Linked DNA regions of Homo sapiens: regions 1, 2, 3, 5, 6 and 7 are each linked to region 4. The links come from fine-mapping of genetic effects on gene expression. A gene starts in region 4. Each other region holds a variant in brackets. All regions are shown on one strand. Distances are from middle to middle.

Region 1 (4,213 bases), 67 kb before region 4:
AGCCCAGGGTACTTGTTTTTCCCCCCTTTTAAACACTGTCACATATTTACGCAGCTATCTGTGTTACTGAGCCACCTTCTTACCTGGGGTTGGGTTGACTCATGCACAGTGGTTGGCACAGCAGGCAGTCAAGATATGAGAGTCAATATTAATAATATTCTCAAAAGAGTATGAATTGCACAATTTAATTTACCGACATCCCTTCCCAATTTGGTGGCACCAGACGTGGCTTAAAGAGTTAAACAATTTGGACTTTTCACTATGTGATGAGTTACTTCCCCTCTACTGAGGATGACTAACATCTTTCAAGTTTTTGGATAGACAATACATGCACAGAGTACCAAATTCGTAACAGGGGAGGAGGACGCTAGAGAAACCAGTGTCTCAGCTCCCTAGCTCTCCTTTCTGTAGGCAGCCGCTGCGCCAGCTTCCAGGGTGTTGAGGTTTGATTTGAATAGGCTTAAGATATCCTTTCTCTGGTGCTAGTATGCTGCTTTTAATTTTGCAGCCTCATTTAGGGTTAGATACGGTCATATTAAGTTGATGGGAAGGAGACAGAGCCAGCCTGAATGTCCTGGGTGATGAGGATTGAAGTCATGGGGTCTAAAAAGGTTCTGGAAGACGAAGAGTGGGAACGACAAACCGAGAGGAGGAAAATCATCTGCAAATAAAGCCTCCATTGCTGATCCCTTCTATCTCAGCCACAGCAGCTCAGGAGGAACGTCGTGCCCAGTGTCTCGAAAAGGCCTGGAGCCGAAGCACTCTGCCAGCTCTTTTCATAAACGCAGAAGCAAAACAGAGCTGCCTGGTCTATGGGCATCTGCGAAACTTGGATACTAAACGCCTGTGTCCTACCCAACAGCCTGTTCTAACGTGACGGGCTTTCTTAGGAGAAGATATCTGCCATCAAACTCTGCCTATGAATTAAAGCAGAGGGCCAGGCTCCGAATCACGTCACAAGTGGAAGAGACCTCAGAGGCTCATCAGTGGCTCTCAATACAGGCCAGGCTCAGAATCACCTAAGGAGCCTCCCACAGAGCTGGCAGAGTCCTCCCCTCCCTTCATCCCTCACACTACCTGGACAGGTTACCCAGGGGCACAGGGCCCAGACCCGTACTGTGGAAAAGGTCCGTACAGCTAGGCTTAATGCAGCCATTCTGCCTGCCAGCTGGAGAGACAGAAACTGCCGGTGGCTATGGGGCAGCTCCCCTGGTGGGAAGGCCCTGGACACAGCTGGCAAGTATAGCCCTGGGGGCTAACAATGGGTCTTTTGATTTTTTTTTATGAGACTGGGTTTCACCCTGTCATCCAGGTTAGACCGCTCATTGCAGCCTCAACCTCCTGGGCTTCAGCAATCCTTGCTCAGGCTGGTCTCTAACTCCTAGGCTCAAGTGATCTTCCCATCTCAGCCTCCCAAAGTGCTGGGATTACAGGTGTGAGCCACCGCGCCCAGCCAACAAATGGGTCTTAACCAGAGTGAACACTGACTCTGGACTGGGCTTTGCTTGCCTGGTGGAAGAGGCCAGTGCTCAGAGTGCTATAGAAAGAACAGAACAGAAGACACTGCTCGGATCTGGACACCGACCGTCATTTCCTCAGACCAGGGGACACACTGTACATCCCACGGTGTCCAACAACGGGCAGAGACGCATCCTCCTCGGAGTGAGTCTGACAGAGCAGCGGAACGGGGAGTTAAAACCCTGGCTAAGACAGGGGCGATGAAAGCATGAAGGGCTGGCCCACATTCAACGGCTAAAGGACGTCCCCATTCGATGTTCCTGTTTTGTGGATCAGGGAAAGAGGGGCTGGGAAGGAGGCTGGTGTGACCACACAATTCTTGCCGAGAGAGGAGCAGGCTGGCATAAGGATTACACATTTTTCTTCCTTCCTTGCATCACCTCAGCTTGGCCACCCTGCTCCCACTTGGTGCAGTGATCCTAGGACCAGGTCTTGCAACCCCAGTGCTGGAAGCAGAGCTGGTTCCTAAGCAAGAAACTGTACTGTTTTTAAACCTTACGTCGGGGCCAGGAGAGGTGGCTCATGCCTGTAATCCAGGGACTTTGGGAGGCTGAGGTGGGAGGATCACTTGAACCTGAAAGTTCAAGCCTGCAGTGAGCTGTGA[C/T]TGTGCAGCTGTGCTTCAGCCTGGGTGACAGAGACTCTGTCTCAATAATAAAATAAGAATAAACCTTACACTGGAATTCCAAGGACCTGATGGGGGTGGGTTGTGCCTTTACCCCATCTGGGAGAACTGGGGTTCACGGTGACTGCAGCTGTACTTCCTGGTGGTAAATACAGCCCCCTAGTCCTGCACCTGTGTAGCCCTACCCTATCTGAATGGGAGTGGACTGAGGGGAGACACTGGCTAGGTTATTGCTGCCTGCAATCCAGACCAGCACAGTGACTGAACCTAATGCTCCTTTCAAACGTGGACGCTTGGGTATAAATGAAGAAAAGGAGGACTAGTAGCAGAGGGTAACGGAATGAATAAATGGGCCATATGATAGAAATCCAATGGTATATTAATACCTCGAAAGCAGCTTCAAAACAAGAGATGATATTGTCTCTTAGTTCAATTATACCAGATGCCTGAAAGGGCGAAGCTATATGTTTGGAAATGGAAAGGAAGACCAAATGTATACTTCACAATATCACAACACTGTTATGAATGGAATGGCTGTGCCTCCCCAAATTCCTATCCCTAATTCCCAGTGGGATGGTATCTGGAGGTGGGGTCTTTGGGAGGTGATTAGGGTTAGAAGAGGTCATAGGTGGGAGCATGACCTGATTAGTGCCCTTATAAGAAGACGGAGAGACATCAGAGCTTCTCTCTCTCTCCACCATGTGAGGAAGCAGCAGGAAGGTGGCTGTCTGCAAGTCAGGAAGAGAGCCCTCACCAGGAACCCCACCGGCCAGCACCTTGATCTTGGGTTCACAGCCTCTGAACTGTGAAAAATATATGTCTGTTTTCAAGCCACACAGTGTGTGGAACTGTTATGGCAGCTCCAGCTAAGACAGAAAACATGATGAAAATACTACTCCTGGGGAATCTGCCCACTCAGATGTGAAAGGCTCATAAATAAACTCAGATTTGTTTCTAAACCTTGAACTCATAAGCAAGGAAATTTTAAAAAGATCAACTAAAACTTGTGAGGTGTCCCTGGTGATCCCAGCAAAGATGTCTTCCAACTTCAGAAGAGGAGGGCCTTTCAATCTCCTATTTACCAAACAGCAAATCACAACTGCACTCACATCACAGGAATGTCTCCGAGGAAATGCTCAAACACGAGCTACACTATGCCGCCTTAGCGGCATAGTCTTTTCCAAAGACTCGCTGGGATACATGTGTCCAGTTGTTAATACTGGTCTGCTAGAAGGTTTAGTGAGAAGAGACTTAAAAAAAAGCATATTTCGCCACAATTTTTTCAAAAAGAGAAAAGAAAAAAGTCATAACAACTTAATAAATCAAGCATTTCATTTGGCTTAAACGCAAAATTCTCACAAAACCTCTCCTAAGAACAGCCAGAATAGGGCAGGCCTTGCTTTTTCACAAGAGCAGGCTGGCTTCTGAGTCTCCGATCACCACTTATGGATTGCATCAGCCCATCTGTGCCACCTCCCTCCTATCTCTTTTGAGAATTTCATCTTTCATTCAAAACCACCCAAGTTAAAGTCTGATTTCTTCCATGACACTCACACCAACAGCTCCCTACTTACATAGAGCTGGAGGCTAAATTGTGATCATCTCTCCACAAGTTGGGTAATACAGGCCCCTACTTCAGGAGTTCAGACCCCTGGCTCTCAGGGAGATGAATGGAAGAAAATCGTTCCTCCTATAGCTCATAGCCCACTGCTGAGCACAAAAGAAATTCAAAATCAGAGAGCCAGGTAGGTAAACAAATACTACTTGCTAAGCATGGTGCTAGATGTTTTCACATCTCTCAGAGTCAGTCTAAAAGGAGGGTATTAATACCGCCTTCCTTGATAGCTAAGGACTGAAGCTTCAATAATATGTAGCGAAAATGGTGAGAGTCCAGGGCTCTTCTCATTCCCTGGGCTTTACTCAGTTCTTGTGGAAGCTGATTAAATTTGTTGAAATCTGGTAAAAGTGGATGGGGAATGGGGTTGATACTACCACCCTTTGAAACTTTCAGATTAAGGGTACGTTATATTTAACCAGAATTATTTCAACTGTAAGCCTTCTTTCAGGAATAAT
Region 2 (4,213 bases), 120 kb before region 4:
ACCACATTCTACCTGTGCCCTTCTGGGTGGGTGGTGGCCGTCCTCTTGGGCGCCCCCTTGTGAGGGCTCGAGGCCTTTACTGGATGGGCAGGATGCGGGCAGCAGCTTTGTCGGCTGCCAACCCAACTCCTCCGACAGAACGGCAGGTGGCCCCTGTCGGAAGGGGGGTGTCTCTTTATTCCTGCCATCCTCCGGCCGCCTCTCCCGCCTGCACCACTTGGAGGCAGTTGTTTCACGTGGGGCTCTTGATGGCATAACCTGATGTCTGTCACGGACCCCCAAGCAGGAGCAATGCCTAAAGAGGGCAAAGGCCCGCGCGCCTGGCAGAGCTCCCTCCTCTGCTCCAACAGCAGAGCCCAGAGCATCCCTTGGCCCGACGCACAAGTCCCACAATAGCCTCTCCCAACGGGAACGACTTAGCCCTAATTACATGAGCTTTGATCACCGCTCGATTGTATGGCACAGTTATTTTTAAAAATCCAGTCCAAGTGGAAATACACCTGGAACATTTTATACTGCAATGACTGATGGACGACTTTGATATACAAAATAAATTGTTACTCAGCTTTTCTATAATGCTTACATCTTACATTTTCATTCTCAAAATTAATAAATGCTATCAACCCCAATTTTTTTTTTTTTTGAGATGGAGTTTCGCTCTTGTTGCCCAGCCTGGAGTGCAATGGTGTGATCTTGGCTCACTGCAACCTCTGCCTTCCAGTTTCAAGCGATTCTCCTGCCTCAGCCTCCCACGTAGATGGGATTACAGGTGCCTGCCACACCATGCCCGGCTAATTTTTGTATTTTTAGTAGAAATGGGGTTTCATCACCTTGGCCAGGCTGGTCTCAAACTCCTGACCTCGTGATCCACCCGCCTTGGCCTCCCAAAGTGCCAGGATTACAGGCGTCAGCCACCGTGCCCAGCCTCAACTCCAAATTTTAAAAAGGGCTTAAACGAAGAGGATGAAATTCTGGAAGGCTAAATGAAAAGAGAATGTGTCTGTTGAATTCGATAAGCAATTCCTTGCATTTGAGAAGGCAAGGAGCCGACGGGAACCTACCGACAGGGCTGCCACGCACTGCTGCAGAGCTTTCCGTGCAAAGCGCGGCTCCCCTCTGAGACTCGGCTCCTCTGCTGACATGGACCGGTTCATCTACCCACGCGGACGCCCATCCACAAACACTTAGTCACTGCTGGAGGCTTTTAAAACACCTGTCAAATGAAGAGTCACTTCACAAATGTTCACTCCCCGTTTCCATGTCTCCCCACGTCAGGGTGAACACTTTTTATGCGCTGTGACAAAAAGAGAAAGACTAGTGTGTGTTTTGGGGGCTGGAGGGGATCATTATTTTTTTGAATTTTTATTTATTGAGACAGAGTCTGTGTTGCCCAGGCTGGAGTCCAGTGGTGCGATCTTGGCTCACTGCAACCTCCGCCTTCTGGGTTCAAACGATTCTCCTGTCTCAGCCTCCCAAGTAGCTGGGACTACAGGCGCCTGCCACCAAGCCTGGCTAATTTTTGTATTTTTTAGTAGAGACGGGGTTTTACCGTGCTGGCCAGGCTGGTCTTGAACTCCTGACCTCAAGTGAAACACCGAAGTCTCCCAAAATGCTGGGATTATAGGTGTGAGCCACTGCGCCCAGCCTTTAAAAAAAAAAAATTATTTTAGATACAGGGGTCTTGCTATGTTGCCCAGGCTTATCTCAAATGCCTGGGCTCAAGCGACTCTCCTGCCTCAGCCTCCTAAGTAGCTGGACTACAGGTGTGTATCTCTACACTGAGCTAACTAAAAACTTGTTTTTGGTAGAGACAGGGTTTCAGCCACGTTGCCCAGGCTGGTTTTGAACTCCTGGGCTCAGGCAATCCTACTGCCTCGGGCTCACGAAGTGCCTGGATTACAGGTGTGAGTCACCACGCCCAGCCCGTTATTTCTGTTTATACGAATGTCACAGCATGTTTCCTGTGTGACCCTGCGGGCTGTCATCGCTGGCTGCCTGCCTTACGCCCACAGGTCTGGTGGTGGCGACCAGCAGCTGCAAAACGACCGACTCTATTGAAGA[C/A]ACACTGGGTGGCGCGGGAGGTTCCTGCCAATGCCGGGAGGAAGAGCAACCCAGGACGCCTGTGCCTGGGAGGGATGGAAAGGCCAGGGGAGGGTGGAGCTCAGGAGTGGAAGCACAGGGACTAAGGCCTGAGCCGGGCCCTGTGCTGAGCGCTCACCTCACTCTCCTGCCGCGCACCGCAGATGTGTGGAAGATGTGAGGAGGCCTCTGCTTCGGGAAAGGTGCTTGCCCCACGGTGGAACGCACTCTGGAAGCCCGTGGATGCGACGCATGCTGCAGAATCCACTGCCACACACATTCTTCTGTTTGAAAGCAGTAGGTGGGCTGGGCGCAGTGGGTCACTGTAATCCCAGCACTTTGGGAGGCTGAGGTGGGTGGATCACGAGGTCAGGAGATCGAGACCATCCTCGCTAACACGGTGAAGCCCTGTCTCTACTAAAAATACAAAAAATTAGCCAGGTGTGGTGTCAGATGCCTGTAGTCCCAGCTATTTGGGAGGCTGAGGCAGGAGAATGGTGTGAACCTGGGAGGTGGAGGTTGCAGTGAGCCGAGATCGCGACACTGCACTCCAACCTGGGCAACAGAGCGAGACTACGTCTCAAAAAAAAAAAAAAAGATAGCGGCGGGTGGGTGCCACACTCAGGGGCCCCCCACTTCTCAGCAGTGGCGGGGGAGGCAGGGACATAACACGCCAGGAAAACAGGTGTAATTTAAGGCACATTTTAATAGATTTATAAAAATCATATATACAAAACATGTTAAACTAACCACCGTGGCTATAACATATATTTTTACACTTTATCATATCTTAACCTCGTACACTGTATTCGTAAACCAAGTCCGGTCACGGCATGATGGCCCGGCGCAGGTGGTGCTGGCGCTGTAGCGACCGTCTTGGAGGGGCTGCACAGAGCACTCGGTTCCTTTCTGTATTTAAGGTCCTGAAAGGCACAGGCGCTAAAGCCAGAAGGCCGTCCAACTGGTCCCTTCGGCAGTGTGTCCTCCTGCTGCGTGGGCTGGGGCCTGAGCACAGGAAAGGGAGTTCAGGACACGGTGGCCATGAGTAGGTGCCAAGCTTACCACACTGAATTTCCTGGCGACGCTTGTGCCCATCGATGTGAGCTGGTTCAAATGGAGTTAAGAAAAAGGGCATTTCGAATTTTTTTTTTTTTTTTGAGACAGACTCTCGCTCTCTCGCCTGGGCTGGAGTGCAGTGGCGCGATCTCGGCTCACTGCAAGCTCTGCCTCCCGGGTTCATGCCATTCTCCTGCCTCAGCCTCCCAAGTAGCCGGGACTACAGGCGCCCGCCACCATGCCCGGCTAATTTTTTATATTTCAGCAGAGACGGGGTTTCACCGTGTTAGCCAGGATGGTGTCGATCTCCTGACCTCGTGATCCATCCGCCTCAGCCTCCCCAAGTGCTGGGATTACAGGCGTGAGCCACCGTGCCCAGCCAGGACATTTTGAATGTTTTAAACCAATTTGCCTGACAGGTCAAAAGGTAATTTTTTGAGATTCGAGACTGACAGATGCAACAGAGATTTTAAATTTTGCATAGGCTTGTTAAGAACCCAGACTGGGTGCAGCGACTCATGCCTGTAATCCCAGCACTTCAGGAAGGCTGAGGTGGGAGGATCACTTGAGGCCAAGAGTTCAACACCAGCCTGGGCAACACAGTGAGACTCCATCTCTATACAAAATTTAAAAATTAGCCAGGTGCGGGTGGTGGCCACATGCCTGTGGTCCCAGCTACTTGGAAGGCCAAGGTGGGAGGACTGCTTGAGCCCAGGAGTTTTGAGGCTGCGATGAGCTATGATCACACCACTGCACTCCAGCCTGGGCCACAGAGCAAGACCCTATATTTAAAATAAAATAAAGTAAAATAAAATAAAACAAAATAAAAATCAAGAAGGTTCACTGTGTAAAAAAAAAGTAAATCTGAAATGCATTTGCATGGCAGTTGTACAACCTGTGAGTGGTGTAGAAATTATATGTGACTTGAGTACATTTTATAAAAGAAGAAAAAAAAATTGAACAGGTTGACTCCTAATAAGAAAGCACCACAGAGTGTACAGCCCACGGTGCCTGTGGGCTGTGTGGGGGCCCTGCTGCAGACGCGTGCTCAGCACCTGTCACCCACAGCTAAGTCACA
Region 3 (4,213 bases), 100 kb before region 4:
AACCATTCAATGGCATTTACTACCTTCAAAATGTTGTACGGCCACCACTTCTACAGCCTATCAGCCGCCACTCCCACTGCCCTGGCCCAGACCCTGACAACACGAATCTGCTTTCTGTCTCCATGGATTTGCCGGTTCTGGATCTCTCATTGGAGCGCATTCACACAGCATGCAGCCCTTTGTGTCTGGTTCTTTTACTTGGTGCGGCATTTCCGAGGCTCGCCCATGCTGTGGCACAGGCCAGTGCAACATTCCATTTTACGGCCAATATATATATATGTATATTACATGCCATTGTATGGATATGTGGTTTGTTTTTCCATTTGTCAGTTGATGAACACTTTGTTTCCAGTTTTTGGCCGTTGTGAACAGTGCTACAAACAGCTGTGTGGAAGTTTTTGCTTGAATATCTGTTTTCATTTCTTGAGTATACACCTAGGAGTGAAACTGTAGCATCCTATGGTAGTTCTTTTTTTATTTTAAAATGGAGTCTCGCCCCGTTGCTCAGGCTGAGTGTAGTGGTGCGATCTTGGCTCACCGCAACCTCTGCCTCCTGGTTCAAGCAGTTCTCTTGCCTCAGCCTCCCAAGTAGCTGGATTACAGGCGTGCGCCACCAAACCTGGCTAATTTTTGTATTTTTAGTAGAGACGGGGGTTTCACCGTGTTGGCCAGGCTGGTCTCGAACTCCTGACCTCCAGTGATCCGCCCGCCTTGGCCTCTGAAAGTGCTGGGATTACAGGTGTGAGTCACTGTGCCCGGCAGTCCTTTGGTAATTCTGTGCTTAATTTTCTGAAGACCACCAAGCTGTTCTCCACGGCGGCTGCACAAGTTTACATTCCCATGGGCCATGTACAAAGTTTCCAATTTATCCACATCCTTGCCAACACTTGCTGTTTTCTGATTTTTAAAAACGGTGGCCATCCTACTAGCTGTGAAATGGCACTCCAGTGTGATCTTTTCTGGGTTTTCTGGCATTTCCTGGTGATCTTTTCTAGGTGGTTCTATTTGTATCATCATTATAGACTGCATGTTTGTATGCTCCCAGAATTCCCATGTGGAAGCCCTACCTGCAGTGTGATGGTATTTGGAGATGGGGACTTTGGGAGGTGACTGAAGGTAGGGACCTCATGATACGATAGTGCCTTCATAAGAAGAGACCGGAGAGCTCTCCCTCTCACTCCGTCCTATGTGAGGCACCAGGACACAGTGAGAAGCTGGCCGTCTGCAAGCGAGGAAGACAGCCCTCCCTCACCAGAACCTGATGGTGCTGCCACCCAGATCCTCAATTTCCAATCTCCAGAGCTGTGAGAAAATTAATTTCTGTTGTTTAACCCACCCAGTCAGAGTATTTTGTTATGGCAGCTTGAGCCGACAAATATAATTATGAACTTGTGGATTTTCATCTGTCAGAGGCAAAGATGGTGAAATGTAAACAACATGTTAATACTGGGCAATGGGTTTATGAGTATCTGTTGGGCTCATTCTTAAACAGTTTCATAAGATGTTTAATAGTTCAAATTATAGATTCAGCCCTTAAAACTACAGATTTAGGGCTCGCCGCGGTGACTCATGCCTATAATCCCAGCACTTTGGGAGGCCGAGGCGGACGGATCACGAGGTCGAGAGATCTAGACCATCCTGACTAGCATGGTGAAACCCTGCCTCTACTAAAAATACAAAAAAATTAGTCGGGCGTGGTGGCAGGTGCCTGTAGTCCCAGCTACTCAGGAAGCTAAGGCAGAAGAATGGTGTGAACCCGGGAGGCAGAGCTTGCAGTGAGCTGAGATCGGGCCACTGCACTCCTGCCTGGGCGACAGAGCGAGACTCCGTCTCAAAACAAACAAACAAACAAACAAACAAATAATCAAACAAAAAACCACTATAGATTTAGATTCTTCATTTGTATCACAGGGATCATCATAGAAAAATGAGCTAGAAAGAAATTTTACAGTATGTTTTAAGGTATTCCCCTGCCTCTAGATAAAAAGCACCTAGACTAGGTGTGGCGGCACGCACACCTGTGGTCTCAGCTACCTGGGAGGCTGAGGTGGGAGGATCACTTGAGCCCAGGAGGTTGAGGATGCAGTGAGCCATGATTGCGCCACTGCACTCAGGCCTGGGCAACAGAGTGAGACACTGTCTCTTAAAAAAAACCCAAAAACCTAAATAACAGGGCTAGGGGTGGGGAGAGCTCACCCAGTTTCCAGAGGCTTCCACCACAGAATCTCTAAAACCCAGCAAGTGCGGCACCAGGCATGTCACAGTTGGACTGCCTGTTAGCTTTCTACTTTTTGGGGAAATTCACAGCAGAATTCCAGCCTTTGTAGTAGCCAGAACCCAAATTCCAAGTCTCTTTGGGGCTAGGACAGAGGTATGTGTGAAAAGTTGCAAGAATAGTACAAA[G/C]AGCTCATACAGTCTTTCTCTAGATTCACCTGTTCACATCTTCTCTCATTTGCTTTATCCTTCGCTCGCTCTCTTTCAATACACAGACTTTTAAAAATCCGTCATCATTTGAGAGCAAGTTGTTTACCCCTAACAACTTCAGAGGGTATGTCCTAAGAATGAGGACACCTGCTTCTACAACCACGGCAACTTCAGGTGCTGCTTCAGGAGAACGCCGCAAGGATAAGAGTATTCATCTAGGATGACTGTCTCATAATTACCACGTATTAGACACCGAGGTTTATCTAATATATACAGATACAGCATTATAAGACCATTTCCCTCCTCTAGCACAGAATTTAGTATATTACTTACATGTAGTTATCATGCCTCTTTAGTTTCATTTAATCTGAAACACTTGAATTTTTTTATTTTTTTATTTTTTTGAGATGGAGTCTCACCCTGTTGCCCAGGCTAGAGTGCAGTGGGGCGATCTCAGCTCACTGCAGCCTCCGCCTCCCAGGTTCAAGAGATTCTCCTGCCTCAGCCACCCGAGTAGCTGGGATTACAGAGGTGCACCACCATACCTGGCTAATTTTTGTATTTTTACTACAGACAGGGTTTTGCCCCATTTTGGCCAGGCTGGTCTTGAACTTAAGTGATCTGCCCGCCTCAGCCTCCCAAAGTGCTGGGATTACAGGTGTGAGCCACCACGCCCAGCCTACACTGAGATTTTTGAAGAAGAGGGCTGCCTCCCACGGCCCTTGGGGTTTTTGCGATGTCTCCAGTGTTTAACATGACAGTTTCGAGATGATTTTCCAGTCAGTGCCACTCCATGCTTGCTGGTCTGTGAGTGACATTCCACTGTCAACAAGAGCCCTGCTCCTGTTTATCTCATCGCTGTCCACATGGACTCACAGACGCTGTCATTTTCCAGGGGCTGTAATTCATCTCTGTCCTCGCTTACTTTGGTGCTCAAAGTGAAGAAAGCACTGAGTCTCGCCGGCCCTTTGCGTTTCCATATTAGTTCTAAAGTCAGCTGTCAATGTCTACCCTCCCTGTCCCCGCAAACACCTGCAGAGTTTTGATTTTGAATGAGGCCTTTAATTCCTCTTGGTAATGCTTATAAATTTTCTGTACACAGGTGATGCACATCTTCCCTTAGATTTATTCTCAGGTATGTAATCTTTTATGGTGCTTCTTAAATGGCATCTTTAAACATTTCCCATTTTATAATCCTTTGTTGCTAGTGAATAGAAATACAACTGATTTCTGTATATTGGCTTGTGCCTAGTCACCCTGCTAAGCTCTGTATTCATTCTAATAATAGACCTGTAGGTTCTTCTCAATTTTCCAGGTGCACACTCACATCACCTGTGAGCCACAGGCATGGTGGTGTGTGGCAACAACAACATTCAGACAGAAAGCCTACCATCTTTTTGGCCAGGAGAACAAGAGGACAGAGCTGGGGCAACCAGGACTGCCAAGGGGTAAGGTGGGAACACTCCAAAAAGAAAAGAGTCAGTGAGGGAGACCTCAAGTTCTGTGCATAAACTTTGCCTAAGAGCCTGGCTGGCCCCTGAACCGTATATATGGGGGCAAACTGAAAGGGGTCTCTGCTGTGATCTAAGCAACCACCAGCACAGGCATGACCAAGTTGGCAGTTTGGGTCTCACCAAGTTAAATGTCTGCTAAAGCAAAAATATCAACATTAGATGGATGAACAGAACAGGATTTAAGTCTTAAAACGACATCCATAATACCCAAGATATAATTAAATTATTCAAAATATGGAAGATATTCATCATCAGGGGCAAAAACAATCAGAAGT
Region 4 (4,213 bases):
GGTTTTCTGGCATGGCAAACTTCTCTCCGACTCTGCTTTGAGATGATTGTCCTCGCCTCTAACTTGGTTTCCCCAAAATGGGCTGGGGAAAAAGTGGTGAGGGGACAAGGAAAGGGTAGAGAGGTAGGGAGGGAGGGAGAAAGGAAGGGAGGAAGGAAGAAAAGAAAAAAGGAAGGAAGGTAGAAAGAAAGGAAGAAAAGGAAGGCGGGAAGGAAAGGAAGGAAAGGAAGGAAGGGAAGGGAGGAAGAAAAGAAAGGAAGGAAAGAAAAGAAGGAAAGGAAGGAAGGAAAAAGGGAGGGAGGACAAAGGACGCTATCTAGGTGTAAGCAAGGCTGCACTGTTCCCTCATCATCAGTTTCCTCCAGATCTTCCTTGAGGCCCTTTAACACAGGCTCACGGTACTGAGAGACTGGAACCCCGACTTTATCAACTCTATGGTTCTTTTATTTTTTTTCACTGCCACTCAGGCTGGAGTGCAGTGGCCCAAACATGGCTCACTGCAGCCTCAACCTCCCAGGCTCAACCAATTCTCCTACCTCAGCCGCTCAAGCAACTGGGACTACAGGTGCATTCCACCATGCCCAACTAATGTGTTCATTTTTGTGGCACTGAGGTCTTGCTGTGTTGCCCAGGTTGGTCTCAAACTTCTGGCCTCAAGTGATCCTCCTGCCTCAGCTTCCCAAAGTGCAGGGATTACAGGCACGAGCCATCACACCTGGCCGACTTCTACAGCTTCTTTCACAAATATGGCGAAGAGAAAAAAGGAAGCAAGAGACAGGAGAATCTGGAGATTCATTGCAATGCATGTCGAGTCACACAAAACAATTATGCCACAATGGAGGAATTCTGAACACTGGATATCTGGTGATAATGAGCTATTACTAATGTTTAGGTTTGCTAATGGTACTGCGGTTGTGTTTTTACATGGAGGCCTCATCTTTTAGCCACTCATATACATCCTAAAACGTTTCCTAATCCAACTACACAAAGTTGGATTTGCTTGGAGACCATGGGGAGGGCACAGGTGAATAGGATTGGCACAGAATTGATGACTGCTTTAGTTGGGCTGTAGGTACTTTACAGTCAATCTACTATTTTCTCTACTTTTGTATACATTTGAAGTTTTCGTATTAGAAAGTGTGGCTCACACCTGTAATCTCAGCACTTTGGGAGGCCCAGGTGGGAGGATGGCTTGAGACCAGCCTGGGCAAGAGAGTGAGAGCCTTTCTAAAAAAACAGAAAAGTAAAAAGAGACTCATGGCTGGTTCCCGTCCAGTCTCCACTGCTCTTCTTCTAAGCTCAGCCGGAGGGCACGGCCGGTTGGGCTCCTATCCCACAAATCTTCCAGTGGGAAATGGACAGATACCATTCTGCTAGGGCACATCCAGGAGGGGGCTAAGTGCCAAGCCCCCACTCCCCATCCCCAGAAGCTGGCCCGAGTTCCCACTCCCACGGTCCCCAGGCACCCTAGAGAGGGCAGAGGCAGACCGGGCGCCATGACTCATGCCTATAATCCCAGCACTTGAGGGAGACCAAGGCAGGAGGATCACTTGAGGCCAGGAGACTGAGACCAGCCTGGGCAACACAGCAAGACCCCATCTCTACAAAAAAAAACTTAAAAATTAGCTGGGCTGGTGGTGCGCGCCTGTAATCCCACTACTTCGGGAGGCTAAGGAGGGAGTAGGGCTTGAGCCTGGGAGGTCGAGGCTGCAGTGAGCTGTGAGGGCGCCACTGCACTCAAGCCTGGGAAACACAGCGAGACCCCATCTCAAAAAGGGCGAGACGGGGTGGGGCAGAGACGACGCCAGCAGGCCTCGGGGAATGGGTCGGGGGGGAGTGGGGTGCAGGCGGGGCTGGATCCAGCATCCTCGCCCCAGGGGTCCCCGCCCGCGGCGGCGGACCACGGAGGGGCCCGGGGCGGGGGTTAGCGCCCCGGCCCACCTGGGTGCAGGTGCTGGGCGGGGGGCGCGCGTCACCTTGAGGATGTTGTCGAAGATGGTGTCGCGGAACTCCAGCAGCGCCTTCTGGTCGAACTCGCGGCCGTGGATGATGCGCATCTGCTTGAGGAACGTGGACTTGCCGCTCTCGCCCGCGCCCAGCAGCAGGATCTTCACCAGGCGCCGGACCGCGCGCCGCTCGCGGGCCAGCAGCGCGTCGATGTCGCGGCTACGCCTCCGGGCCTCGCGCTCCGCGTCGCGCGCGCCGCTGCCCGCCCTGCGCTCGCGGGCCCCGCCGGCCTCGGCCGGCAGCAGGCAGCGGCTGAGGGTCCGCACCACCCCGGACATGGCCCCTCAGGCCGCGGCCGCGCCCCGCCGGCGCCCGGGGGCCATGGACGCTCCCGCCGGCGAGGGCGAGCCCGGGCCGAGGCACCGCCCCACGCCCCGCCGCTCGCCTCAGGCCGCGTCCGCCGCCGCCGCTGCAGTCGCTCCGAGGCCCGCACTCGTCGCCCGGCCGCCACTCGGGCCCGGCGGAGGGGCGGGCGGCGCCGCGTGAGGCCCGGCGGATTGGGCCGGCTGCCGTCCATCTGGCCGTGAGAGCCCTTCGATTGGCTCATCTCGCCAAGGGAGGCGGGCATCCCTTCCGGCCTCGGGGCGGGGTCGACGCCGAAAGAGGCGGGATCTTTGAGGTGAAGGCGCTTCTCATTGGACGCCCAGGCTGAGGTTCTTTCTTTCAGAATGAAAGGGAGGCGGGGTCGCCCGGGAGGCGGAGCGATCGTCCGCCATGGCCAATTATAATTGCTCTGAGTGGACATCAGACGTGCCCAACGGGCTTTGGATTGGGTGTTCGGGGGACGGGGCGTGACGAGAAGTGCCAGGTGTACAGAAAGATTCTCCCTTGGTTCCCAGATTGGGTCCGCCTGTGAGACCAGGACCTCGCGGAGTAGCCCAAAGGCTGGGAAATGCTGATAAGAGGTTCAGCTGCTCGTCGTATTCCCTCCGATGATCTTGTTTCTACACTATTTTCCTTCCAGAAACACTGGAGGGGGATGGGCCATAAATTTCAAACACATGCACCCTTTGAGAGTGGCATGGGCTTCTAGGAGGCTTTGCGAAAAGCTGACTAATCACTAAAATCACCAGAAGCTCCCCCAAAAGTCTTATGTCTCACAGTGATTGAGAGAGTGGGGTCTGGAGTTGCTGGGCCTGAGTTGGAATCTCCAGTCGACCAGTTACTAGGTGTACTAGTTGCATAACTTTTTTTAGCAGCTTTCCCCACCCCCCCCAACAAACCCTTTTGGATGTTCTTAGCTTCCGTTTCCTCATCTGTAAAACGGGGGTGTCATTGACGACATTGGTTATGGCTTGACATTGCTCAAATCGTCATGAAGATATAAACTGAGAACATGAACTTACCAAACACTTAGCACGTGAGCTAGCCCAAAATCAGCTCTTGATAGAGATCAGCTGATTACAGATTCTTGACTCTCCCAGATCTACTGAATCAGAACCTCCTAGAAGGAGCTCAGGTATCCCTTAAGATTAAAGGCGTGAGCCGCCGCGCCTGGCCCAGTGTGTAGTCTTTTATCTCTCGCCACCCCCCACCTTTTACCCTGAGTCCCCAAAGTCCAATCTCTGTGCGGTGTCTGTTAACTCTGCTGATTATTTCTTTTGCAGTGCCGAAGCTTTTTAGTTTAATTAAGTCCCATCTATTTATCTTTGTTTTTGTTGCATTTGCTTTTGGGTTCTTGGTCACAAAGTCTTTGCCTAAGCCAACGTCTAGAAGGATGTTTCCGATGTTATCTTCTAGAATGTTTATGGTTTCAGGTTGTAGATTTAAGTCTTTGATCTATCCTGAGTTGATTTTTGTATAACGTGAGAGACGAGGATCCAGTTTTATTCTTCTACATGTGGCTTGCCAATTATCTCAGCACCATTTGCTGAATAGGCTGTCCTTTCCCCACTTTGTTTTCATTTGCTTTGTTGAAGATCAGTTGGCTGTAAGTATTTGGCTTCATTTCTGGGTTCTCTATTATGTTCCATTGGTCTCTGTGCCTATTTTTATATTAGTACCATGCTGTTTTTGTGACGATAGCCTTATAGTATAGTTTGAAGTCAGGTAAAGTGATGCCTCCAGATTTGTTCTTTTTGCTTAGTCACAGATCTAAACTCCCCAGAAGGCTGGGCACGGTGACTCACAACTACAGTCCCAGCAGTTTGAGATGCTGAGGTGGGAGGATCACTTGAGCCCAGGAGGTCAAGGGTGCAGTGACCTA
Region 5 (4,213 bases), 90 kb before region 4:
ACCGACAAGATTATCAAAAAAGAAAAATTACAGACCAACTCTCCCCTTGAAAAGACACAATATCTTTAACAAAACTTTAGCAATTTAAACCTAACTACATAAAAAATGTCAATAGAAGACAGCCACTATTTTAGCAAAATAAGGAAGAAAAAAATACGAATGTTTCAATAGATGCAGAAAAAAAGCATGTGAAAAAATTCAACACATGCTCAGGGCTTAAAAAAAAAGTCCTCTCTCACCAGACTAATAGAAAGAAACTTCCTCAGTTTGATAAAGGGCATCTATGAAAACCATGCAACTAACATCCTAAGTCATGGTGGACCACTGAGTACTTTCACCCTAACACTGGGTGTAAGGCAAGGATGCCCACTTTTACTGCTTCTGGTCAATGCTAAGTTAGAAAGACTAACAGCAAAAAGCAAGACAGCAAGCAAGCGAACAAATGAAACAAAAGACACAGGGACTGGAAAGCAAGAAATAAAACAATCTGCAGATCGCCTAACTGTTCAAACACAAAATCCTAAGGAAGCTATAAAAAAGCTAGCAACAGAATCAATCCGTGAGTTCAGCACATTCACAAGATAAGAGATTACTACACAAAAATCAAGTATATGTTTTACATACTGCCAATAACCCAATGGAATCTAAACATTGTAAAAGCAATTCCGTTTTTAATAGTACTAAGAAACGTGAATTTTTTTTTGCCGTAACTTTTCATCTTGAAATAATTATAGATGCATAGGAAGTTGCAAAGATTGCCTAGAGAGGTATAGGTGGACCTGCCATGCATTTTCCCCAGTGGTTACATCTGTTGTTCTTATAGTACAATATCAGAACCAGGGAACTGACGTTAGTACAATGTGTGTGTGGTTCCATGCACTTTGTCACCTGTCTAGATTTGTGTAACCACCACTGCAATCAAGAGACACAACTGTCCCACCACAACGGTCTCCCTCGTGCTACCAATTTATAATCACAGCCATCCTCCTTCTTCCACCATCCCTAATCCCTTGGTAACCACGAATCTGATTTCCATCTCTAGAATGTATAGTCACTGATCTGTTTTCTGTTCCTATAGTTTTGCCTTTTCTAGAGTGTACTTAAAGTGAAACCATACAGCATGCGGCTTTTTTTTTTTAAAAAAAGAGACAGGGTCTTACTGTGTTGCCCAGGATGGAATGCAGCGGCATGATCATGGCTCACTGCAAACTCTCCTCCCAGGCTCAAATGATCCTCCTGCCTCAGCCTCCCAAGTAGCTGGGACTATAGGTGCATGCCACCACGATTGGCTAATTTTATTTTTTGTAGAGATGGGATCTTGCTATGTTGTCCAGGCTGGTCTTAAACTACTGGGCTCAAGCCATCCTCCCAAAGTGCTGGGATTACAGGTGTGAGCCCCTGCACCTGGCAGCATGTGGCCTTTGGAAGTTGGCTTTTTTCACTCAACATAATGTCCTTGGGATCTGCTCACACTGTTGCATCTGTCAGTAGCTTGCCCCTTTTTACTGCTGGGAGAATTCCATGGTCTGAACGTGCCGCAGTTTATTTAACCATTTACCAATCTAGAGACATTTTGGTTGTTTCTGTATTTTAGCTATTACACATAAAACTCTGTGAACATTCATGTACAGGTGTGGTGTGGATGTAAGTTTCATTTCTCTAGGGTAAATGCCCAGGAGTGTGACTGCCGGGCTGTATAAGTGTATGTTTAATTTTTTTTTCCTTTTAATTACATTTATTTTAATGCTGAATTTACTCCTGTGCCATAAGTTTTTGTTTCTTCAGTTTCTTCTGGGATATCTTTTTCTTCTGGGCAACCTCCTCTTCTGGTTTAGGAACAATCTGTTCCTTTTCAGTAAGGATCATCTCAATGTGGCAGGGAGAGCTCATGTATGGGTTAATCCGACCACGAGCTCTGTAGGTCCGGCGGCGCATCTTAGGTGCTTTGTTCACTTGGATATGCTCAGTGACCAGAGAATCTACATCTAAACCCTTAAGTTCAGCGTTACTCTCTGCCAAACTCTTTTCCAGAACGGTTGTACCCTTTTACCTCCCCACCAGTGATGAATGAGACCCAGCTTCTCAGTATCCTCACCAGCATTTGTTATTTTCACTATTTTCTATTGTATCTGTGTTAATAGGTGTGTAGTGCTAGCTCACAGCAGTCTGAGTCTGCATCTCCCTTAATTGGCAGTGACTCAATGGCTGGAGAGGCTGGATGTCTTCTCGTGCTTATGTGCCATCGGCATGTCCTCTTTGGTGAAATCACTTCATATGTTTTGTTATTTTCTGTTTGGATTGTTTTCGTACTGGTGAGTATTGTTTTGAGAGTTCTGTTTTCTAGATAATGAGTCCTTTGTCGGATATGTAGTCAGCAAATACTTTTCTCCCAGTCTGTAGCTTGTCTTTTCATCCTCTTACTAAGAGGATCTGGGCAGGGCACGGTGGCTCACCCCTGTAATCCCAGCACTTTGGGAGGCCAGGGCAGGAAGATCCCTTGAGCTTAGGGGCTCGAAACCAACCTGGGCAACATAGTGAGACCTCATCTCTACTT[TA/T]AAAAAAAAAAAAAAATTAGCCAGGTATAGTGTTGCGTTCCTGTAGTCCCAGCTATTAGGGGAGGCTGGGACAAGAGGACTGCTTGAGCCCAGGAGACTGAGGCTGCAGTGAGCTATGATCACACCACTACACTCCAGTCCGAGCAACAGAGTGAGACCCTGCCTCAAAAGGAGGACTTTTGCAGAGCAAACATTTCAAATTTTGATGAAACAAAAATGACCGTTTCTCAAAATTTGATTTCAACGGATCACTAGGGCGTCATGTCTAAGAATTCTTCACCAAGTTCTAGGCCCCAAGGAGTTTCTACTGTTATCTTCTCTCAAGTTTTAGAGTTCTGCGCTTTACACTGAAATCTGTAACTCAGTTTGAATTAATTTTGTATAAGAGATTTAGGTCAAGGTTCACTTTTTCTTCCCTACAGAGACAGTCCAGCACCCTTTGTTGAAAAGGCTCTCCTTCTTCACTGAGTTGCTTCTGCCCTTGGCTGCAATCAGTCGGGCGTGCTGGCGGGGAGCGATCCACGGGTCTGTCCAGTGACCTCGTGTCTCTCCCTGCGCCAGCACCACACAGGCCTGACCACTGCAGGGAGACAACAGGCCTTGGAATCAGGGAGAGTGGCCCCTCCCACTTTATTCTTTTTCAAACATTTTTGGCCATTCCAGTGCCTTTCCGCATACATTTTACAATAATCACATCCATGTCTACAAAAGATCTTGCTGCGATTTTCACAGGAATTGTGTCAAATCTGTGTATCAATCAGGGGAGAACAGACATCTTGACAGCACTGAGTTTTCCATGAACACGGCACATCCCTCCATTTGTTTAGATCTCATTTCTTGAGTGTTTCGTGCTTCTTATCAAACAAGTCCTCTAGATGTTGTGTTAAATTTACACCACAGTATTTCATTTTTAAAATGACTGTTAATGGTGTTGCATCTTAAATTTGTTTCCATGTGTCTATTGGTCATTGTTAGTCTATAGAAGTAAAATTTATATTTTGTATATGGATCTTGTATCCTGTAGCCTTGCTAAACTGACTCATTAGTCTATGACTTTTCTGGTAGATTCCTTGGGATTTTCTGTGCCATCTGCCAACAGGAACAGTCATATTTCTTTTTCTCTGATATGTCTACCCTGCATTTCCTTTTCTTGCCTTACTGCATTGGCTAAAACAGGAAATTTTTTTTAAATGTGAAAAATTTCTTTACTGAAAACTGAAGAACACTTGGGCAAAAAATTTGAAACCTAAATAATTGGAGAGTTATGTCATATTCATGAAATGGAAGATTCAACATTGTTGTTTATGCTCCCCAAATTGATCTAGATTGAATACCAGTCTCAATACAAATCCCAGCAGGCATTTTTTTTGGTAGAAATTGACAAGCTCATTTTAAAATTTATCTCTTCAAAACACCACAGAATAACAAACCATTTTATAAAGAAGAACAACGTTTTCATAATACCAACTTTCAACTTGCTAGAAAGTGACAGAGTTTATCATCGGCAAAAGAAAAGTAATATGGATCAACCGAATAGAAATGAGAGTGCAGAAACAGGCCCCCACATATATGGCCAATTGATTTATAAAAAATTGACAAGGCAACTCAAATGAGGAAAGGAAAAGTTTTCAACAAATGGTGCTGGAAAAACTGGTGAT
Region 6 (4,213 bases), 110 kb before region 4:
GACAACAGGGAAAATCTCTAAACTGACTAGGTTGACATTACGGAATTACTGCCAATTTTTCAGGAGCCATACGGTACTGCGGTTGTCATTTTTCGTCTTGTCTTTTTGAGGTACACTCTAAAATATTCTCTGCATTTGCTCCCGGAGGCCGGGGGAGGGCTGCTGAAACAAGACTGGTAATCAGTGATAACTGCCATGCCTGGGGTTTCATTAGACTATTTGTTTTTGAGTATGTTTGAATTTTCCATGAGATAAAGGAAGTCCTCCTTTCACTCATGAACTCCTCTGTCTGTCTCCTTTATGGTGATCTGGGCAAAGGCAGTTTCCTCCCCTCCCCACTGAGACGGGGCCCAGATCCAAGTGAGAGCGTGCCATTACAGTACTATTCGTGGTAATGTGACAGAACAAGCTCGGCCTGTCAGTCCAGCCAAAGTCCTCACAACGTGGACTGCTTTGGTCTCTGGACACGTTTTCTAACCCTGGAGCCCAGCTTCTTCGGGCGGGCGTGCTTACTCACCAGCTGGCCGATCCGGTCCAAGTTGTCCAGGAAGTACTTCACCGACTCCCCCTGTCAGGAAGGAAGAATATTCACAGCTCAGTCTGGACTGAGGAATCCTGATGTGGCAAATACAAGAACTGAACAGGGTAAGAGCAGTGGCATTTCGCCTCCGTGTGAATGGGAAAGCAAAGGAAAAAGGCAGAGAGTGTCCGTGTGTTTTCTAAAATAAAAAAACTACCATTAAAGAAAATGTTTAATGCAGGTTCTTTAGCTCCAACCCCAAGGTTCAAATTCTGGCTGTTTTTCAATTTTCGCTGCTGGGTTTTGGTGTGTGGTGCGATGCAGGCCCCTCTGATGGGGGACTCTCTTTCCAGACATGAAGGCTGGCCCACTCCTGGCCATGCGGCCAGCAAAGGACAGGCTAGAATAGGATTTTAGATTTTGGCTCCTGGGTACAGTCTTGCTTCTGTCGAAGATGGCCTAAGGGACCCAAGACATTGTCCTTAAAGACAAAACATCCTGACGAAAAGGAGCATCTAGCAAAACATCTTCCAGTTTCTAGAAAGAGTCCATTATTCCTTCCCACATTTTTATGACCTGATTTATAGTAGCAAACACAGGGGAATCTTCCATTTGGATTGTTGTGGTGGAATGATGGCCAGTCTTCTCCTGCCTGGACCAATCATCGATACAATCTGAGACGTGTTCCATAGTGCGAAGGGCCCTGCGGAATCACCCAGGACCCCGTTTCAGGAAGCGCTGAGCCGCCAAATGCGAGGCACACACGGGGCACGGGAGGAGCCGGGAGAGCGCAACCACCGACCACAGAGCAGCCCGCATATGAACAGGCACGCAATGAGTCCCTTCAAAGGTAGCGTATTAAAAACCAATTATACCACTTTCTATAAGATTCCACTTTGAACCCTGCTCTAAAGACAGACACCAGCAGGCGGGGTCAAGGCTTCCAGGCTGCCCTGACATCAGGGCTTGTGGGAAGAGCAGTCACTTTCTGTGTTCTCATGGAAATGTACAGGGGCAAGGTCATACACATGTGGCGAGCTGACGCAGGAGAATTTTAAGGAGAGAAGGCCATCAGAATGGACTACGTGATGGCGCTGAAGCTCGTGGCGTTGTAAGGGATGGAGAAAGGCGGCCAGCACCTGCTCAGTCTATCTCTTCCTCCTCTGTCCCAGACAGACTGAGGGGAGAAAGCAGAGAGGAAGCTCCTTCAGGGAGGAGCCCACCTTCCTACTTTAGAACGAAGGCCTCTGGATGTTTTCAAAGTGAGTGTTTTGTTTGAGGGGACAGAAACACACGTCTCCCCATCCCAGCACTGCCTGTGTTGAGCGAGCACACATCCTCCTCCTCTGTGGCAGGACGGGGCGAGCACGTGCACCTCGTGACCACCGGCTCTCTAGAGCCCCAGGCAGAGGCCCAGCTCTGCAGTAGGGAAGGCATCGGGAGTGCCAGGGTGAACGTACCCCAAGGGCCCGGCACGACTGACCTCTCGTGCCTGCTCTCTCCCTTCCTCGCCAAGCCCCCGTGATGTGGGAAGCCAGCGTGAGGCCGGTGGGGCAGCCGCCTTCCCGTGGCTGTGCCAAGTCCCCCCGGTCCTCTGCACATCATGCCTCCTTCCACACCCTGACAGGAAGCAGCTGGGAGAAGCCGTTGGGTGCACTCACTCCCTGATTTACGACAAGTTCCTTCCTCAGCGCCTCTCTCTCCTGCCTCCTCCTGCTCTCCTGCCCTCCCCTGGGCCTCGGGAGGTGCCACGCAAGCCCAAGAAGCATCAGCATACTGTCCCTCCCTCTCCTGTGGCCACGGGCTCCCCCAGGGAGCTGAGAGTAGCAGCAGCTCACAGCCCAAGCCACCCTTGCCCGTTTCTAGGCAGGTGGTGGCACCAGGCACGAAGGAAGCAGAGGCAGTTCTCCTGCAGGGTTCTAGCTGGGTCAGGCATGGAGAGTCACAGTGGCACAGATGCCCCAGCCAGTGCTCTTATCACCACAGGACACAAAGCCCTG[GAC/G]ACACGTGCTCCGCCCAGATAGTACGGACGCAAGGGGAAAAGCACCACAGAGGGCACAATCAGGACAAGCTCGATGGGAAGCAGAAAACAGGAGGGACGTTTCCCTCGGTGTGAGTCTAAACACCCCTCGAGTCTGCAATCAGTCCCCCAGCTGCACTTCACAACACAGCAAACACTCACTGCTGCTTTCTCCACGATGACTGAATGAGGATGGCTCATTTAACTCATCACAGCATTTGTATCACTACTTGGAATGCAGGAAAACTTATCTGTGACTCTCGGTCATCTTGCATGAGTGGCGGAGGAGAGGAGTCAAATCTAGTTTCATGTCAGGGCGGCCTCATCTCGAGAAACAGCCCAGGGGGTCCGTGGGAAAGCTGCCACTGAACTGTAAGGTGCCAGGGACTGTGCCACAAGCTCTCTAATGGGGGCTGGAGGGGAGGGAAGAAGGGGACACAGAGCAACCCTGTGTGATCCAGAACGCTGTCACTCACATCCGCACTCTTGCTGTCCCTGAGGTTTGGTGCACTGCGGTTCACCAACAGAGACTGGACAATGCACCTGCTGATTGGGCACGCAGCCCACGGGACGATCGTTTGCGACGGACTCCTCAAGTCTTACAGCAGCAGCTCATTAAAAGGGCCAGGTTTACAATCCCATGCATTTTCAACACTAAGAGAATTCAGTCATTTCTTTAGAGAAAATGCATGTGGCAGAAACTGAGATGTCCACATGAAATTAACCGCTTGGTGGGTTTATAAAGAGGCACTGTGCCTGCCAAGACGAGCCCAGAGTCCTCTCAACGGCTGCTGCGGTCACACGATCTAGAAACACGAGTGGATCCAAAGTGGGCTCTCGGGACTCTCCTTGGTGTGAAAAACCTACACCACTCAAGATTAACACAAACTTGGACTTGCGGATTAAATGAAATGAATTTCATTAGGCTGGGGCCAGCGGCCACTGAGCACACACCTGACAGGGGCCTGTCCCCTGCCTCAACTGTCCCACGAATGTGTCTGTCCTCTCACGAGCAACAGAAGGGATGAACCTGAGCAGGGGCTGGTGGCAGTGAAAGAGGGGTTGTCTGTTTCAAGCAGCAGCAGCAGGTTGATATGGGGCCTGTGCACCTGTATTGGGCACAGCCGGGCAGATGTGATGTCGTGACACTGGGCAGGACCTAGGCCGACACACGCCCATGAGGAGACCGCCTTTCTGCAGAGGCCTGCAGCCTTCAGCAGTTTCTGGAAGCACCTGTCACCCACACCTCCGGTGGGAGAAAGACACACGCTCGGCTTGCTGCCGCTCAGAACTCCGTCAGCACCGTCAGGCAGGCACTGCAGCAGCCTCGCCCGTCACCTCTGTCTCTGCACACAGCAAGCTGCCCCTTCACAGACCCCTGCTGGCCTCACGCACTTCCTTCAGCTAATTTAGGACCACGAGAAAAGAGCTTCAGATCATTCAACCCTGCACAGGACCAGACCCTCGAGATCAGTACATGAGGGGCTGACTCTGGTTCCCTCTTGTCCTCTGCTCCTAATTGGAGCCTTTCTACCCACATGCTTGGTTCAGTTCCTGCCTGTCAATGTCACAGACTGACAGGGTGTGCATTAAAGACAGCCCATGTGTGGGTCCCACTGGGGAGTGAGAGGAAAAGGTAACCGTGGATTGGTCTCAGATGTAAGCGTCTAAGT
Region 7 (4,213 bases), 75 kb before region 4:
TTTTTCCCGTTTTATAGGCTGCCTTCTCACTCTGTTGATTGTGTCCCTGTACCCACAAAAATGTTTACATTTGATGTGCTCCCATTGGTCTATGTTTTCTTTTGTTGCCTAGGCTTTTGGTATCATACCCAAGAAATCACTGCTAAATCCAGTATCTTGAAGCTTTCCCTCTATGTTTTCTTCTAGGAGTTTTAGTTTTCGTGATTATGTTTAAGTCTTTAAGCCATTTTGAGTTATTTTTTGTATACAGTATAAGAGTTGTGGTACTTAAAAAAAAATAGCTATGCTGCATTCCACTGAATAAATGTACAATCACTTATGTGACCCTTTCGATAGCCACCTGGGGGCATTTCCAGTGTTTTGCTGCCATCAACAACTGTGACATGAATACCCTTTATAGTACCCTCTCTCACACACAAGAACAACTGTTTCCCTGTCTTCTTATTTAAAATCAACTCTTGGCTGGCGCGTTTCAAGTTTTTTACTTCTTCATTTGTATTGTAACTCCTAACCTTTAAACCCTTAGCACCAGATATATTTTGGAATTCAGAAACTTTCAGATTTTGGAAAGATAACATGGTACATATGCTATGCATTACCAAATCCTCATCGTAAATAAAATCTGAGAATATTTCTACAATAACATAGATTTGTGTGTGTGAACAGTTGTACTAATGGAGACTATATTTTATTTTATTTTAGTTTTTGAGACGGAGTCACTCTGTCACCCGGGCTGGAGTGCAGTGGTACAATCTCGGCTCACTGCAACCTCCGCCTCCTGGGTTCAAGCAATTCTCCTGTCTCAGCCTCTTGTGTAGCTGGGACTACGGGCACATGCCACCATGCCTGGCTAATTTTTTTATTTTTAGTAGAGACAGGGTTTCACCATATTGGTCAGGCTGGTCTCGAACTCCTGACCTCAGGTTATCCACCTGCCTTGGCCTCCCAAAGTGTTGGGATTACAGGCATGAGCTACCGCTTACAGACCTAATGGAGACTATAAATGGCCACGGGTATGTGAGGCCAGGCTTTGCTACTAAACAAGTCCAAATTGAGTTAGATTAGGTTTTGCTGCCAAATAAGTGATCGGAAATGGTTTCTGTTTTCCAAGTTTAAATACAGCAAATGTAGTGACTAAGGAATTGCTAATTCAAACCTGGATCTCTCAGCTTCAAAGTCATGTCACTTCATCCAGTGAAGATCAGTAGCCTTCCTTTTTGAGGTCCTGGCTTAGCAAGCTACGTTTTTCCTAGTATTTCTCTGCTTCAGAGAACTCAGAAAAACACTAACTGCATTCGAGGACTGCGTGAAATGAAATCACATCCTAGAGTCCTGAGACATGCCCTTAAAATCATGGATGTAACACTCAGGAAAACAAAGGTTAGAGTAAAACCTAATGCTAATAAGTTTTCTTTCAAAATGGTTATAATGCAGTTACGTACATTTAGAAAATTAATTCAGTTATAAAATTAGGTAACAGGTGAATATGCTCTCAAGGTAAAAAAAAAACAAAACAAAACAAAAAAAAAAACAGTAAACCTATGGATAAAGGAGAGTTCATTCCCACTCATTCCCACAACTATTAATCACTGTTATCAACTTGGCATACACTTTTCTACCTTTGTTTCTGTATTTAATATGTGTATATTGTATGTGGAGAAATCTACACTTTAATGATTTGTTTGGTTTATATAAATGGGATAAACTACTACACATTGATTGTTTTCCAAGTTGGTTTTTACCCTTACCATGCCTTAGATATATTTCCTTTTCTTTGAGATGGAGTCTCGCTCCGTTGTCCGGGCTGATCTCGGCTCCCTCCACCTCCTGGGTTCAAGCAGTTCTCCTGCCTCAGCCTCCTGAGTAGCTGGGATTACAGGTGTGCACCACCACACCCAGCTAATTTTTGTATTTTTAGTAGAGACAAGGTTTCACCATGGTAGCCAGGCTGGTCTCGAACTCCTAACCTCAAGTGATCCAACCGTCTTGGCCTCCCAAAGTGCTGGGATTACAGGCGTGAGCCACCATGCCCAGCCACCTTAGAGCTGTTTCTGTGTGGACCTTCATTCCTTCTAATAGCCATCTGGTATTCTACTTAAACAGCATCACTGGCAGGTATTTACGTAGTTTTAATTTCTGCTACTACCATCAACATTGCAGAAACCATCCTCATGCACACCACTTCTGGGACATGTATAATTATGTCTGTAAGCTAGGTATCTGTAAATAGAACAGCTAGGTCAAAGAGTATCCATATTAATTTTTTAAAACAGCTCTGGCCGGCT[G/A]GGCACGGTGGCTCATGTCTGTAATCCCAGCACTTTGGGAGGCCGAGGTCGGCGGATCACGAGGTCAGGAGATTGAGACCATCCTGGCCAACACGGTGAAACCCCGTCTCTATTAAAAAAAATACAAAAAATTAGCCGGGCGTGGTGGCAGGCGCCTATAGTCCCAGCTACTCAGGAGGCTGAGGCAGGACAATGGCACGAACCCGGGAGGTGGAGCTTGCAGTGAGCCGAGATCGCACCACCGCACTCCAGCCTGGGTGAGAGAGTGAGACTCTGTCTCAGAAAAAACAAAAACAAACAAACAAAAAAAACACAGCTCTGGCCAAATTCTCTCCCAAAAAGGTTGTACCAATTTATATCCTAATGAACAAGGGTTTAAGATACCCACTTCTTTATACCCTTAACACACTGGATATTATCAATTGAATTTTTTTCTGAATTTGATGGGTGAAAAGTGATATGTCATTACATTTTAAGTCTAAGTGTTTTTGTTTTTTTAAATCATGGGGGGGCAAGTACTTTTTCAAAATTGCTTTTATAAAATTAAAGGTTTATAATAGGAAGTTACAATAAAATAGATCATAGTGACATGCAGAGCTAAGATTCAATTCAAGCTATAGACTGGCCTGGTACTGTGAGGAAAATAAAATATATCCTCAACATTATTCAACTGCATAGATAGCAACAAATAAACAAACCTACAATGTATGACTTTACTGAGGTTCACTGCCATAATATACTATAAACAGGATAACCATATGCCCCACTTGCCCTGGAGAGTCCCAATTTGAGTCAATCATCTTGGCAAAATTGTTTAATAGGGTCTTGTTTTATTTATAAACATGTCCCGTTTGGAAATTAAATTAAATGATCACACAATTTTAAATTTAGGCTCAAATTGAGGCTCAATAGCCTCTAGAACCATATCAAGCTCAAAGAGTTCAATTCTGACATAGTTCAGCTAGGCTTGTGACAGGGCAATGCTTGTCCATTGGAGTTGGCATTAGATTAAGTTAGAGTTAGCTAGGCGTGGTGGTGCACACCTGTAGTCTCAGCTACCCAGGAGGCTGAAGTGGGGGAAATCTCTTGAGCCCAGGAGTTTGAGGATGCAGTGAGCTACGATAAGCGTGCCTGTGAAAAGCCACTGAGCTCCAGCCTGGGCCACATAGTGAGACTCCATCTCAACAACAATAACAACAACAAAACAAAACAAAACAACACACAGAAAGAAAGAAAGAAAAAGAACAAACAAAAACAAAGCAACATGGATGCTTCACTGGGCAGCAGAGCTAATGGGATCCTGTGCTTGTTGCTTTGTGTTTCCACGTAGGACGATTACAAATCAGAGTTACTGAAACCGAATGCCCCTTCACTGTATACCATAGGAATACTGGCACTGCCTAAGTGCAAGGCCATCGTGCAAGATTATGGCAATGTTTTAAGATCATCTAAACGTGGACCTGGGGGTACTGCAAGCGCCAGGCTCTGATGACTCCTTGCAGAGCAAATGGACAGGGAACAGACTTAGTAAACCAAATTATTAAAATCAAAGAAAAGGCCAGGCGCCGTGGCTCACACCTGTAATCCCAGCACTTTGGGAGGCTGAGGTGGGTGGATCACTTGAAGTTAGGAGTTCAAGACCAGCCTGACCAACATGGCGAAACCTCGTCTCTACTAAAAATACAAAAATTAGCCAGGTGAGGTGGCAGGCACCTATAATCCCAGCTACTCGGGAGGCCGGGGCAGGAGAATCGCTTGAACCTGGGAGGTGGAGGTTGCCGTGAGCTGACATGTCGCCACTGTACTTCAGCCTGGGCGACAGAGCAAGACTCCCTGCCACTCAAAAAAAACCAAAAAACCAAAAAAACGAAACCGCACATAGTGAACTTGCCCAGTCTGATGACTTCTGACATATGCATACAGCTGTG

The links. PIP is the estimated chance that this variant, and not a neighbour inherited with it, causes the effect.
Region 1: its variant is fine-mapped to the expression of GNA12 in whole blood (INTERVAL, PIP above 0.99).
Region 2: its variant is fine-mapped to the expression of GNA12 in whole blood (TOPMed, PIP above 0.99). The same link has a PIP of 0.9 or more in lung.
Region 3: its variant is fine-mapped to the expression of GNA12 in whole blood (INTERVAL, PIP above 0.99).
Region 5: its variant is fine-mapped to the expression of GNA12 in whole blood (INTERVAL, PIP above 0.99).
Region 6: its variant is fine-mapped to the expression of GNA12 in whole blood (TOPMed, PIP above 0.99).
Region 7: its variant is fine-mapped to the expression of GNA12 in whole blood (TOPMed, PIP above 0.99).

Annotation. Positions count from the first base shown.
Region 1 is chr7:2,774,781-2,778,993 of GRCh38, forward strand. All of the region lies in intron 2 of GNA12 (G protein subunit alpha 12), which reads right to left. Among named protein-coding and RNA genes, the nearest start is that of GNA12, 67 kb to the right of the region's middle. The variant C/T (reference allele first, on the strand shown) is at 2,123.
Region 2 is chr7:2,719,055-2,723,267 of GRCh38, forward strand. AMZ1 (archaelysin family metallopeptidase 1) reads left to right here. Exons shown (of 7, transcript NM_001384743.1): 7 at 1-629. Among named protein-coding and RNA genes, the nearest start is that of AMZ1, 33 kb to the left of the region's middle. The variant C/A (reference allele first, on the strand shown) is at 2,062.
Region 3 is chr7:2,739,212-2,743,424 of GRCh38, forward strand. The region is part of intron 2 of GNA12 (G protein subunit alpha 12); the gene reads right to left. It also overlaps a transcript of AMZ1 not described here. Among named protein-coding and RNA genes, the nearest start is that of AMZ1, 53 kb to the left of the region's middle. The variant G/C (reference allele first, on the strand shown) is at 2,404.
Region 4 is chr7:2,841,877-2,846,089 of GRCh38, forward strand. It overlaps GNA12 (G protein subunit alpha 12), which reads right to left and starts at 2,432. Exons shown (of 4, transcript NM_007353.3): 1 at 1,977-2,432. The coding sequence starts at 2,285. RefSeq lists enhancers at 1,739-2,556, 2,519-2,813, 2,796-2,925 and silencers at 1,906-1,955, 2,296-2,625.
Region 5 is chr7:2,752,028-2,756,240 of GRCh38, forward strand. All of the region lies in intron 2 of GNA12 (G protein subunit alpha 12), which reads right to left. It also overlaps a transcript of AMZ1 not described here. Among named protein-coding and RNA genes, the nearest start is that of AMZ1, 66 kb to the left of the region's middle. The variant TA/T (reference allele first, on the strand shown) is at 2,555.
Region 6 is chr7:2,732,934-2,737,146 of GRCh38, forward strand. It overlaps GNA12 (G protein subunit alpha 12), which reads right to left. Exons shown (of 4, transcript NM_007353.3): 3 at 518-568. It also overlaps a transcript of AMZ1 not described here. Among named protein-coding and RNA genes, the nearest start is that of AMZ1, 47 kb to the left of the region's middle. RefSeq lists an enhancer at 806-1,793. The variant GAC/G (reference allele first, on the strand shown) is at 2,521.
Region 7 is chr7:2,767,168-2,771,380 of GRCh38, forward strand. All of the region lies in intron 2 of GNA12 (G protein subunit alpha 12), which reads right to left. Among named protein-coding and RNA genes, the nearest start is that of GNA12, 75 kb to the right of the region's middle. The variant G/A (reference allele first, on the strand shown) is at 2,286.